2 separate regions of the Homo sapiens genome follow, and region 1 is linked to region 2. The links come from fine-mapping of genetic effects on gene expression. A gene starts in region 2. The other region holds a variant in brackets. All regions are shown on one strand. Distances are between the middles of the regions.

Region 1 (5,386 bases), 36 kb after region 2:
ATCTTGGCTCACTGCAACCTCTGCCTCTTGGGTTCAAGCGATTCTTGTGCCTCAGCCTCCTGAGTAGCTGGGATTACAGATGTGCACCACTGCCTGGCTATTTTTGTATTTTTAGTAGAGACGGGGTTTTGCCATGTTGGCCAGGCTGGTCTCGAGCTCTTGGCCTCAAGCCATCTGCCTGCCTTGGCCTCCCAAAGTGCTGCGATCACAGACATGAGCCACTCTGCCCAGCCACTTTAGTAGTTTCTAAAGGTTTTATAGTAGTAGAACGCTTTTGTTCCTCAAATGAAATCTTAATTGGAAACCCTATTGTGTAGAGAAAGATGAAAACAGTGGCTCTAGTTTAGGAGAGAGAGCTTGGAGGGAGGGCCTTGTACATTGAGCCTTTCTTCCTTCTCATTCCTGAGAATCTTTGGAACGCAGTTGAATACTGCCATTTGTCTGGACTTTTTGAACATTTTTATTTGACCTAAATTAATTTTGTCTTAATAAAAAATACATTTAGGTTCAGTATCTGTATATTTGTTTTTAACTATGTGATATGAACTTTGTATTTACCATATTGAACATTAGTTAAAATATTTTTAATGTTAATATTACACCTTGATTGTGAGCACAAATTTATATACTAACATTTGTATTTCTTAAATTTAAACAAAATATAGTGGAGTTCAAGAGTTTTTAAGAATGTGGCAGTGATCCCTCCTGGAACTGGAATGGCTCATCAAATAAACTTAGAATATTTGTCAAGAGTGGTTTTTGAAGAAAAAGACCTCCTCTTCCCAGACAGTGTAGTCGGCACAGATTCACACATAACGATGGTGAATGGTTTAGGGATTCTGGGGTGGGGTAAGTAAATGACTAAATATATTTCATTTCTTTTGGGGTAAGGATGTCAAGAACATTGTAAAAGAACATAAATTATTGAGTTTGTATAGCCTCTTTGAGGCTCTGTGTTTTTCATCTGTAATAACAGCAGCAACAACAAAATCCTAATTGAGAGTTTGTGATCAGTGTTGTAAAAGAGGATTTATGAGAAGAAATTTACACAGTGTCTAGCACAGCACTACTATTTGTGAAGTAATTGAATAATTGAATGATGATGATGATACGTCTACAAAGTTTGCTTCTTTGTGTAAGGTACTTTTGTGGCTTCTCCTGGTCTTCTTTATAAGTCCAGATTTCTTGCCATTTTATACAAGGCATGTCCCTTTAGCCACTCACCCACACCCATCTTAGAGAGACTAGTCATTTCTTTACTTACGTGGGCTGTCTCTTTTCTTTTTTTTTTCTTTTTCTTTTTTTTTTGGAGACAGCATCTTGCTCTGTCACCCAGGTTGGAGTGCAGTGGCACAATCTTGGCTCACTGCAGCCTCCACCTCCTGGGTTCAAGCAATTCTTGTGCCTCAACCTCCCAAGTAGCTGGGACTACAGGCACGTGCCACCACGCCCAGCTAATTTTTGTATTTTTAGTAGAGATACGGTTTTGCTATGCTGGCCTGGCTGGTTTTGAATTCCTAGCCTTAAGTGATCCACCCACCTCGACCTCCCAAAGTGCTGGGATTACAGGCGTGAGCCACTGAGCCCAGCTAGCTATGCTCTTTTATATGCCATGACTTTGCATAGGCTATTTCTTCTGGAAGAATGCTTTCTGCCGACCGTGACTTTGTTGAAATGTGGCTACTATTAACTCATCCAAGACTGGCCTCAGTTATCTTCTGAAAGTCTTAACTCCCTTGCTGAGTTCAGTGTACCTCACTTTGTAAGCTTACTCTTTCACAGGGTGTTATAAATGTTGATTTTTTTGTGCTTTTTCATTAGACTGAACTTGTTGAGGTTGGCAGGGACTGGATTCTGTTTATATCTGTATCTTGAATACAGTGCAGTGCCTAACATAATGAATACTTAAACTAATGTTTTAACTTGAATATACTTAAAACTAATATTTTACCTTGAATATAAAGGTAAAATAATAGTTTTTCGACCGTGCGAGTGGAATCATTTCTTTTGGGAAGCCTTGGGTTCAGTGTCCACATTAATAGCAATATAGCAACTCTGCAAAGTACTGTGTAAGATAAGCTCATGAAACACCTAGAGATTCAGATGTTACAGAGATAAATGATCTTTAAATATACTGTGCTAATATACCTGTCTTTATTACGTTAGGGGTTGGAGGCATTGAAACAGAAGCAGTTATGCTTGGTCTGCCAGTTTCTCTTACTTTACCAGAGGTGGTTGGATGTGAGTTAACTGGGTCATCAAACCCTTTTGTTACATCCATAGATGTTGTTCTTGGTATTACAAAGGTAAGTTAAAGTTGTGGTAGCTCTATGACTTACTGAACATTATTTTTATAAAAATTGAAGAGCTCTATGAGAGCAGGGATTTGGGTTCATTACTGCATCCTCAGGTCTCTTGACGTTAGCCACATCATCATAGTTATCATAGTAATAACAACAAACAGAGCATTTAGTTTGTACTAATAAATACAAAGAAATTTGTTGTGTTCACTTATGTTAGCTCATTTAGTCCTTATAACAAGCCTGTGAGATGGATACTATTACTATTCTCATTGTAACTCTGAGAAAACTAAGGTACAGTAGGGTTTAGTGACTTACCAAAGGGTCGAAGGCCTGAGTAGTAAGGGGTAGAGCAAAGATTCCAGGCAGTCAGATTCTTGAGTCCATTGTCTTAACCATTATGCCTTATTAGTGCCTTGTTGCCTTAATAAACACTTGCTGACTACATTATTTTTTTTCTCTTTTTTACTTGAATTTAAAAAAAATGTTT[A/T]GCAAAAGTTGATTGTGTCGTCTTTAATTAAATTATTTGCCCATTAGAAACTGTTGCTCTACTAAGTAATGCTTTCAAAAACATGGACTGTAGAAATGTGATATATCATTTTTCTGTTGCCGTTTTAACATTTCTCTGGATTATTATGTAAAAATCTTCTCTCTGAATTTTTAAAATACTGGCTTCAGAACTTCAATACATACACTGAGCTTGTTAAGCATATTAATACACAGGCTCACGGATTTCCTAGTGAACAATAATTTGTAACTCTTCTTCCTAAATGTCTGGCCTTTGCTAACTTTATTTTAATGATTAAATCCTATTTTGTTAAATGAATGTACCTGGAAAATGTTCCACATATAATTCCAATTTGAGTCCCAATCTCAGCATTTTTGGTTAGATTATTGGTACGAAGGCTTTCCGGATACTCCAGTGTAAGGAAATGATAATGCCTCCCTCTCAGCATTTGGTATTGATCCTTCTTCCCTAATTAGAAAAGAATTTGGCATCTTAGAGAAATTATTGATTCAACGTATGATACCAAAAGATCAAGTAGTAAATTGGGAATTGCAGGATTATTCCTAGAGGAAAAGGAGTATCCCATTATGTTTTTACAGAAATCAATTCTTTACTTTAGACATCCTGAAAACTAACGCTGCTTTTTAGCCTTCTCTAGCTGTTTTTTCCTGACAATATTACTGTGTGTTTTTTGACATTTTAGTTTAATGTTAAAAAATTAATCTATTATATATGTTTACATTTATTGAATATATTATTACTTCTTTTTTGAGATCCTGTTCCATTTGTGATCCTTATAGGAATAATCCTGTATTGTTTTTTTGATGAGAGCAGCATTTGGTTTGTAATATCTAATCTGTGTTTCTTTCATCCTAAAAAATAAAACCATAGGCCGGGCGCGGTGGCTCACGCCTGTAATCCCAGCACTTTGGGAGGCCGAGGCGGGTGGATCATGAGGTCAGGAGATCGAGACCATCCTGGCTAACAAGGTGAAACCCCGTCTCTACTAAAAATACAAAAAATTAGCCGGGCGCGGTGGCGGGCGCCTGTAGTCCCAGCTTCTCGGGAGGCTGAGGCAGGAGAATGGCGTGAACCCGGGAGGCGGAGCTTGCAGTGAGCCGAGATTGCGCCACTGCAGTCCGCAGTCCGGCCTGGGCGACAGAGCGAGACTCTGTCTCAAAAAAAAAAAAAAAAAAAAAAAAACCATAAATGAGGAAACATCTTTACACTTAGGGTTTGAGTTTCTGTATCTATAAAAAAGGGTTTGGATTAAGTGATCCCTGGCACTTATAAAATGTTAGGGCTTAATATTATTCATAGATCGAGGATAGTTTCATTCTTAGTCGCCTCCTTAGTCACTCTTCCTATACCAATCTGAGACCATTTTACAATTTAGAAAAGACAAATAACTGGTTGGGTTACTTGATAGTATAATAACCAAGAAAAATAATTTTAGAAGGAATTAAGTTTGAAACCACATGTTAACAAATTCTACCAAAGTGGGATTTGCCTGTGATTAAAGATGCTGTAAACATTTGGGCCAGTAGTTATAATTTGAAAAATGTTTATAGCCAATATATAATTTTTTATTTAAATATACAGTTTCATCAGTCTATTAGTATTTCATTAAGTCTAAGATGCCATCAGTGGTTAGCAAACACCACTGTTTTATGCACTGCTAAGAAAGAATAAAGGGCTGTGTGCAGTGGCTCACACCTGTGGGACGCCAAGGCAGGAGCATCACTTGAGGCCAGAAGTTCAAGACCAACCTGGTCAACATTGTAAGACCCTGTCTCTACAAAAAAAAAAAAGTTAAAAATTAGCTGGGTGCGGTGGCACATGCCTGTAGTTCCAGCTACTCTGGAGGCTAAGGTGGGAGGATTGCTAGAGCCACGGTGTTGGAAGCTGCAGTGAGCTGTGACCACACCACTGCGCTCCAGCCTGGGCAACAGAGTGAGACCCTGTTTCTAAAAGAAAGAAAGAAAAAGGGCTGCCACCTAAACAGACACACTATTGAGTTGAGGTACCCTGATTTCAAAGACATGAAAATGTTAATTATAGCCACCTTGAGCTTTCAGGCCCCTTTCTACCCTGATTAACAGTGACATTGGACCAGTCTTCTCTTTACTTCTTATCTTAAAATACCCCCAAAACCAGAATGAGTTGATTCATAAGGACAATGAAGGATCTCATTCCTTCACCATCACTAGTATTGGTTAAAAATTTTATTTTATAGTTTTCAGACAATCGTTGCTAATCTTATCTTTGCAATTTTGTATGTGTTTCTGTGTATTCCTTATATAGCACCTCAGGCAAGTAGGAGTGGCTGGAAAGTTTGTTGAGTTTTTTGGAAGTGGAGTTTCACAATTATCTATAGTTGATCGAACTACAATAGCAAACATGTGTCCGGAATATGGTGCTATCCTCAGCTTTTTCCCTGTTGACAATGTGACATTAAAACATTTAGAACATACAGGTAAGAAGATAAAAGATCACTAGAATAAACATGTTACATTTCCAATGTGTTTGATAATATTTTATAAATTACTACCTTATCCATGTTATTTACTATTCACAA
Region 2 (5,386 bases):
CTCTACTAAAAATATAAAACTTAGCTGGGCATGATGGCACGTGCCTGTATTCCCAGCTACTCAGGAGGCTGAGGCAGGAGAATTGCTTGAACCGGGACCCGAGGGGCGGAGGTTGCAGTGAGCCAAGATCATGTCACTGCACTCCAGCCTGGGCTACAGAGCAAGACTCCGTCTCAAAAAAAAAAAGAATCAAACAAGACCCATACTGTCAGATATTCAAGTACATTAAACATACACACAAACATAAAAACAGTAACAACAAATTTGTTTATAATTATCTGAGCCTAGAGTTTAACCCCATATACAAGTAAAAACAAAAGTAATTTGTGTATGGTTTTAATATATACGGAATTTTCTAGGAATACAACTATTGCATAAAAAAAGCAAAGGTTTTTTTTTTTTGTTTTGAACTTTATCAAGAGTTATTCACCATTTCAGAAAATCACAATAGTGACAACACTTCCAATATTTAAGTCACTAACATATTTTCATTAGTCTTTAGAGGCCATTCATGATATATATGTACATTTTATACATATGTGCATTTACCATATATGCATTCATAATATATATTTATGCATGATATGTATGTATATATTGAATCCTTATTTTGCAATGTCAGACATAAAAAGTGTTGACCATATTCAGCTGAATATTATCTTTTTTTTTTTGAGACGAAGTCTTGCATTGTTGCCCAGGCTGGAGTTCAGTGGTGAAATCTCGGCTCACTGCAAGCTCCGCCTCCTGGGTTCACGCCATTCTCCTGCCTCAGCCTCCCGAGTAGCTGGGGCTACAGGCGCCTGCCACCACGCCCGGGTAATTTTTTGTACTTTTAGTAGAGACGGGGTTTCACCGTGTTAGCCAGGATGATCTCCCATCTCCTGACCTCGTGATCCGCCCGCCTCAGCCTCCCGAAGTGCTGGGATTACAGGCGTGAGCCACCGCCCCGGCCTTATCTTTTTTTGAGACAGGGTTTCATTCTGTCTCCCAGGTTGGAGTGCAGTGGCACAATCATAGCTCACTGTAATCTTGAATTTCTGGGCTCAAGTGATCCTCCTGCCTCTGTCTCACGGTAGCTGGTACTACAGGCATGCACCACTATGTCTGGCTAACTCTTTAAGTTTTTGTAGAGACAGGGTCTCACCATGTTGCCCAGGCTAGTCTCAAACTCCTAGCATCAAGCGATCCTGCAGCTTTGGCTTCCCAAAGTGCTGGGATTACAAGCTTGAGCTACCAACTGTGCCTGGCCCAGTCGAATATTATATGTCCTGTAAAACCAAACTCATTCGTTATAAATAGATACAAGCATCTGACTACTCAATTTTGTCATCTAATATAGACATGCCTGTGCAGCTACGTATTATAATACATATTATTTTCTAATAAATTACTTTCCTATTTTTCTCCTTTATATTACAGTTAGGTCATTAAGTAGATTATTTATCGTGTATGTAGATTATATTACCTATGAATTTCATGCTGGGATTGTAAAGGAGATGTTACAAAATATAGCAAGGTGAATAAAGGAAATATATTGGAGTTTGGGTTGACAGGGCTTGGATCAATGATTAAAGGGAGTGGATGAAGGAGTCAGGTATAATGTGTTGATTTCTGGCTTGGGCAACCAGGTGGATGGTGGCGCCATTCGCTAATACAGGCAATACAAAAGGAATAGTAGGTTTAAGGAGGGAAATGACGAGTTCAGTTTTGGAGATTTTTAGTTTGAGGTGCCTTGGGATGTGGAGGCATCCCATGGGTACTAGGATATACACCTCCGGGTTTAGGAGATAGGCTCAGGTCACAGGCAGACTGGGAAGCATCAACATATTAACTAATAACTGAAGTCAAAGGAAGTGTGAGATGGGCCAGGGAAAATGGACAGAGGGAGGAGGTACAAGGCCAGAGCCCTGGGACACATTTAATGTCCAATATATTTTTTTTTGAGACAGGGTCTTGCTGTGTTGCTCAGGCTGGAGTGCAGTGGTGCAATCATGGCTCACCACAGCCTCAATCTCCTGGGCCCAAGTGATCCTCCCACCTCAGCCTCCTGAGTAGCTGAGACTACAGGTGCATGCCACCACACTCAGCTAATTTTTAAATTTTTTTTGTAGAGATAGGGTCTCACTACGTTGCTGTGTTTGGTCTTGAACTTTTCAGCTCAAGCCATCCTCCCACTTTGGCCTCCTAAAGTGCTGGAATTACAGGCATGAGCTACTGTGCCCATCAAGTGCCCAGTACATTTAAAAGCTGGGCGGAGGAAGAGGTCTGCAGAGGAGCCTGAGATCAAGCACCCTTAGGAGAAGAAACAAAAGTAGAGTCTGAAGTCACAGAAGCTGATGGAAGAGTATTTTTCAACAATGGGAGAGAACCAGTCAAGATTGAGATATGTGAGATTAGAAAGTGGAGTTATAGCTGGCCTTGGCTAAAGGCATTTCTGGGAGTGGAAGCCAGACTGGAAGAGGATAAGAAGTGGGTGGGGGAGAGCCGAGTATGAGCGACTCTTTCTGGTAAGTTGCTGCGACAGGAGATAATGCTGGGTAGGTGGAGAACACAGGGACCGGAGGAGCTGAGGCGGAAGGATGGAGAGGCTTAAGCATGTGTTAACTGCCACTGGGAAGAAGTCGGCAATCACGGAAGCTACCGGAGGGTAAGAAAAAATTCATTCATTCAACAGTTGAGCGCCTCCCACGCGCCCGATCAGTATGGCCGCCCCCACTTGAAAACACGCGTGTGGGCCGCCCACGTCTGACAAGTTAATGCAAGGCTTTATAGTTAGGGGAAAGCGGTTCTCCTTGAGCTCTTTCTCCTAGCAGTTCCGATTCCGACCCTGACTCCAACAGACACCTTGCGGGAACGCAAACACCGCTCGAATTCATGACCCCAATAGAAAACTTAAGGCCGCAACTAAGTAACGGATCGCTGCGAAGGCCAAACTAGCCACGCCAACGCCCCCACTGGAGCCTCCCCAGCGCTCCGCCCCCGCTCGCGAGAACAGCGGCGACGGCGCGAGAAATCGCTTTCTGGTTAGCTCCGCCCCTTCCCTTTCTTTGTTTTCCTGTCCGACGATCTCGCGGGAGTTAGGCGACAAATCCCGCGAGCGCAGACCCGGGGCTGGCTCTGCTGCTCTCGCGATATTTGCGCGAGCCTGCTTCCTTCTTTCCTCCCTTGCCAGTCCGCCTGTCTTCCTCCCCGTCTTCCCTGCCCGGCCTCCCCCTTCTTCCCCCGCTGGCCCCCTCCCCGGAGGGATAATATGGTCTCCGGCGATGGACGCCCCAAAAGCAGGTCAGTTTCGGGCCTCCGAGCTGGGTCTGGCAGTTGGAAACGCGCGCTGCCTAGGCGCCGAATTCCTTGCTTTTCTCGCCTGGAGTCGCTCGGCAGGCGCCCAGGCCCTCGGGGCTCGGGTTGTGCTCCCCTCGGGGCCTGCCTGCTGGGCCGCCCTTTGAGCCTAGGCCGCGGAAGCTGGGGCTCCCGATCCCCACCCTCCTGCGCGACACCCGCAGGGCGGGCCACCCCACCGCTGGCCTTGACCCGCACCCCTCTCTCTCCGGTGGCCGCTGCCTGCTGCCAGCGGCTTCCTGGCCCCCGTCAGCAACACCAGGGGCAGGGAGAGGCCCACCGTCTTCTCCTGCCCGCCCCCCATTGGCGAGCGATGAAGGCGGGGGCCTGCGTCTCCGTGTTCGGGTCTCACGCAGCTAGATGTTGATTCCACGGTCCAGCCTAAGGCCCCTCAGTCTCTCTGTGCCTCTGGAAGCCGAATGAGGGGCAGTCAAGGTTGAACATTGGTCAGTCAGTTCTCCGACCATTTATTGCACCGCTGTCTCCTCCCCCGTCCACCTCCCTCTACAAAAAAAAAAAAAGAGAAAAAAATACTATTCATTCTGAAAATGGGCTGTGCTTATGTTTTCTCCTTTTGGATGAAAGCCTTAACAATGTTGAGGGTCCTGGCCACCCACCGCTATGAGTCTGCACAAAAGATCTGAAGGTTCTTTTCAACCTCAGGGCTGCCTCCCCGCCACTGCCCCCTAGAATGTTGGGAGCTGAGGCACGTTTAAATGAGACCTCTGGATCTTTGACTTAGTAGTTCAGCTTCAGTTCGTGCAAAACCAGAAGACTTGTCTCTTTCGGGTAGAATATGCTAATTTCCTAGAGATTCTGTTACTTTTATTTTCAGTACTAAGCCCTGGTAAGGACTTAACTGAGAAGTTTTTTTGTTTTGGTTTATTGAATGCTCTGTAAAAATCCGTCTTTTAGTTTTTTTTTTTAATCAGTCCCTCTAATGTTAATTGTGGAATTCACAAATTCCTGTCTCTGCAGTTTTCAAGACATGTCTTTCCAAAACGTCCCCGTGGATTATTTAAATCATTCTTATTGTCCCTTTCCAGGTATTCTTATCACATTTCAGGAGTGAATTATCTTACTAGTTTTTACTTGACAAATTATGGTTTAGAACTATGCTTTCCAGTGTGGTGGATACTAGCCCTGTGTGACTTTAAATTAATCAAAATTAAATAAATTAAAAATTCAGTTCCTCAGGCACGATAGCCACATTTCAGGTGCTCAATAGCCACACGTTGCTAATGGCTACTTTACTGGACAGCTCAAACATAGAATATTTTTACCATTGCAGAAAATTCTATTGGATAAAGCTAGTTTCCAGGTATTTTCAGCTGAATAAAATATTTTGTTGCTGCATTTAATGAAAATACAATTTTTTTTTCAGGATACGCCTTTGAGTACCTTATTGAAACATTAAATGACAGTTCACATAAGAAGTTCTTCGATGTATCTAAACTTGGCACCAAGTATGGTAATGTTGCTTTACATTTTCTTGGGTTTGTTTAGTCTCTAATAATGAAAATGCATTTGTCAAGCTGAGCTGAAGAAATTTTAAATGTATTTCCACCGTATTGTAACAGGTACACCTACACATACCTATACCATTTTAAAAACTCCTCCTGGGACAACTTCTGTTCAGGGAAGATGTAGGCCCACACCTTAACTTCTCATTTAAAAATCTAAGTTAATTAAGCACTAGTTTTTCCCCTCAAAGAAACCAATAATGCAGTTTTCAAACTTTTTTTTTTCTTGTTTTTGTGAAGACAGGGGTCTTGCTATGTTACCCAGGCTAGTTTTGAACCCCTGGGCCCAAATAATCCTCCCACCTCTGCCTCCCCAAGTTTTGGGATTACACATGTAAGCTACTGCGCCTGGCCTAATGTGATTTTTAGAAGAACCTGACTGACTGATGATAATTCTACACCAATTAAATGTATATTTTATTTTCTCTTTTCTTTTCTTTTTTTTTTTGAGACAGAGTCTTGCTCTGTTGCCCAGGCTAGAGCACAGTGTTGTGATCATAGCTCATACAGCCTTGAACTCCTGGGCT

What was found. PIP is the estimated chance that this variant, and not a neighbour inherited with it, causes the effect. A credible set is the group of variants that fine-mapping cannot tell apart.
Region 1: its variant is the best candidate, but not a certain one, in a credible set for the expression of IREB2 in thyroid (GTEx, PIP 0.67).

Annotation. Positions count from the first base shown.
Region 1 is chr15:78,471,076-78,476,461 of GRCh38, forward strand. It overlaps IREB2 (iron responsive element binding protein 2), which reads left to right. Exons shown (of 22, transcript NM_004136.4): 7 at 666-849; 8 at 2,167-2,306; 9 at 5,113-5,284. Among named protein-coding and RNA genes, the nearest start is that of HYKK, 34 kb to the right of the region's middle. The variant A/T (reference allele first, on the strand shown) is at 2,791.
Region 2 is chr15:78,435,075-78,440,460 of GRCh38, forward strand. It overlaps IREB2 (iron responsive element binding protein 2), which reads left to right and starts at 3,142. Exons shown (of 22, transcript NM_004136.4): 1 at 3,142-3,282; 2 at 4,721-4,807. The coding sequence starts at 3,264. RefSeq lists enhancers at 2,677-2,756, 2,827-2,886 and a silencer at 3,357-3,596.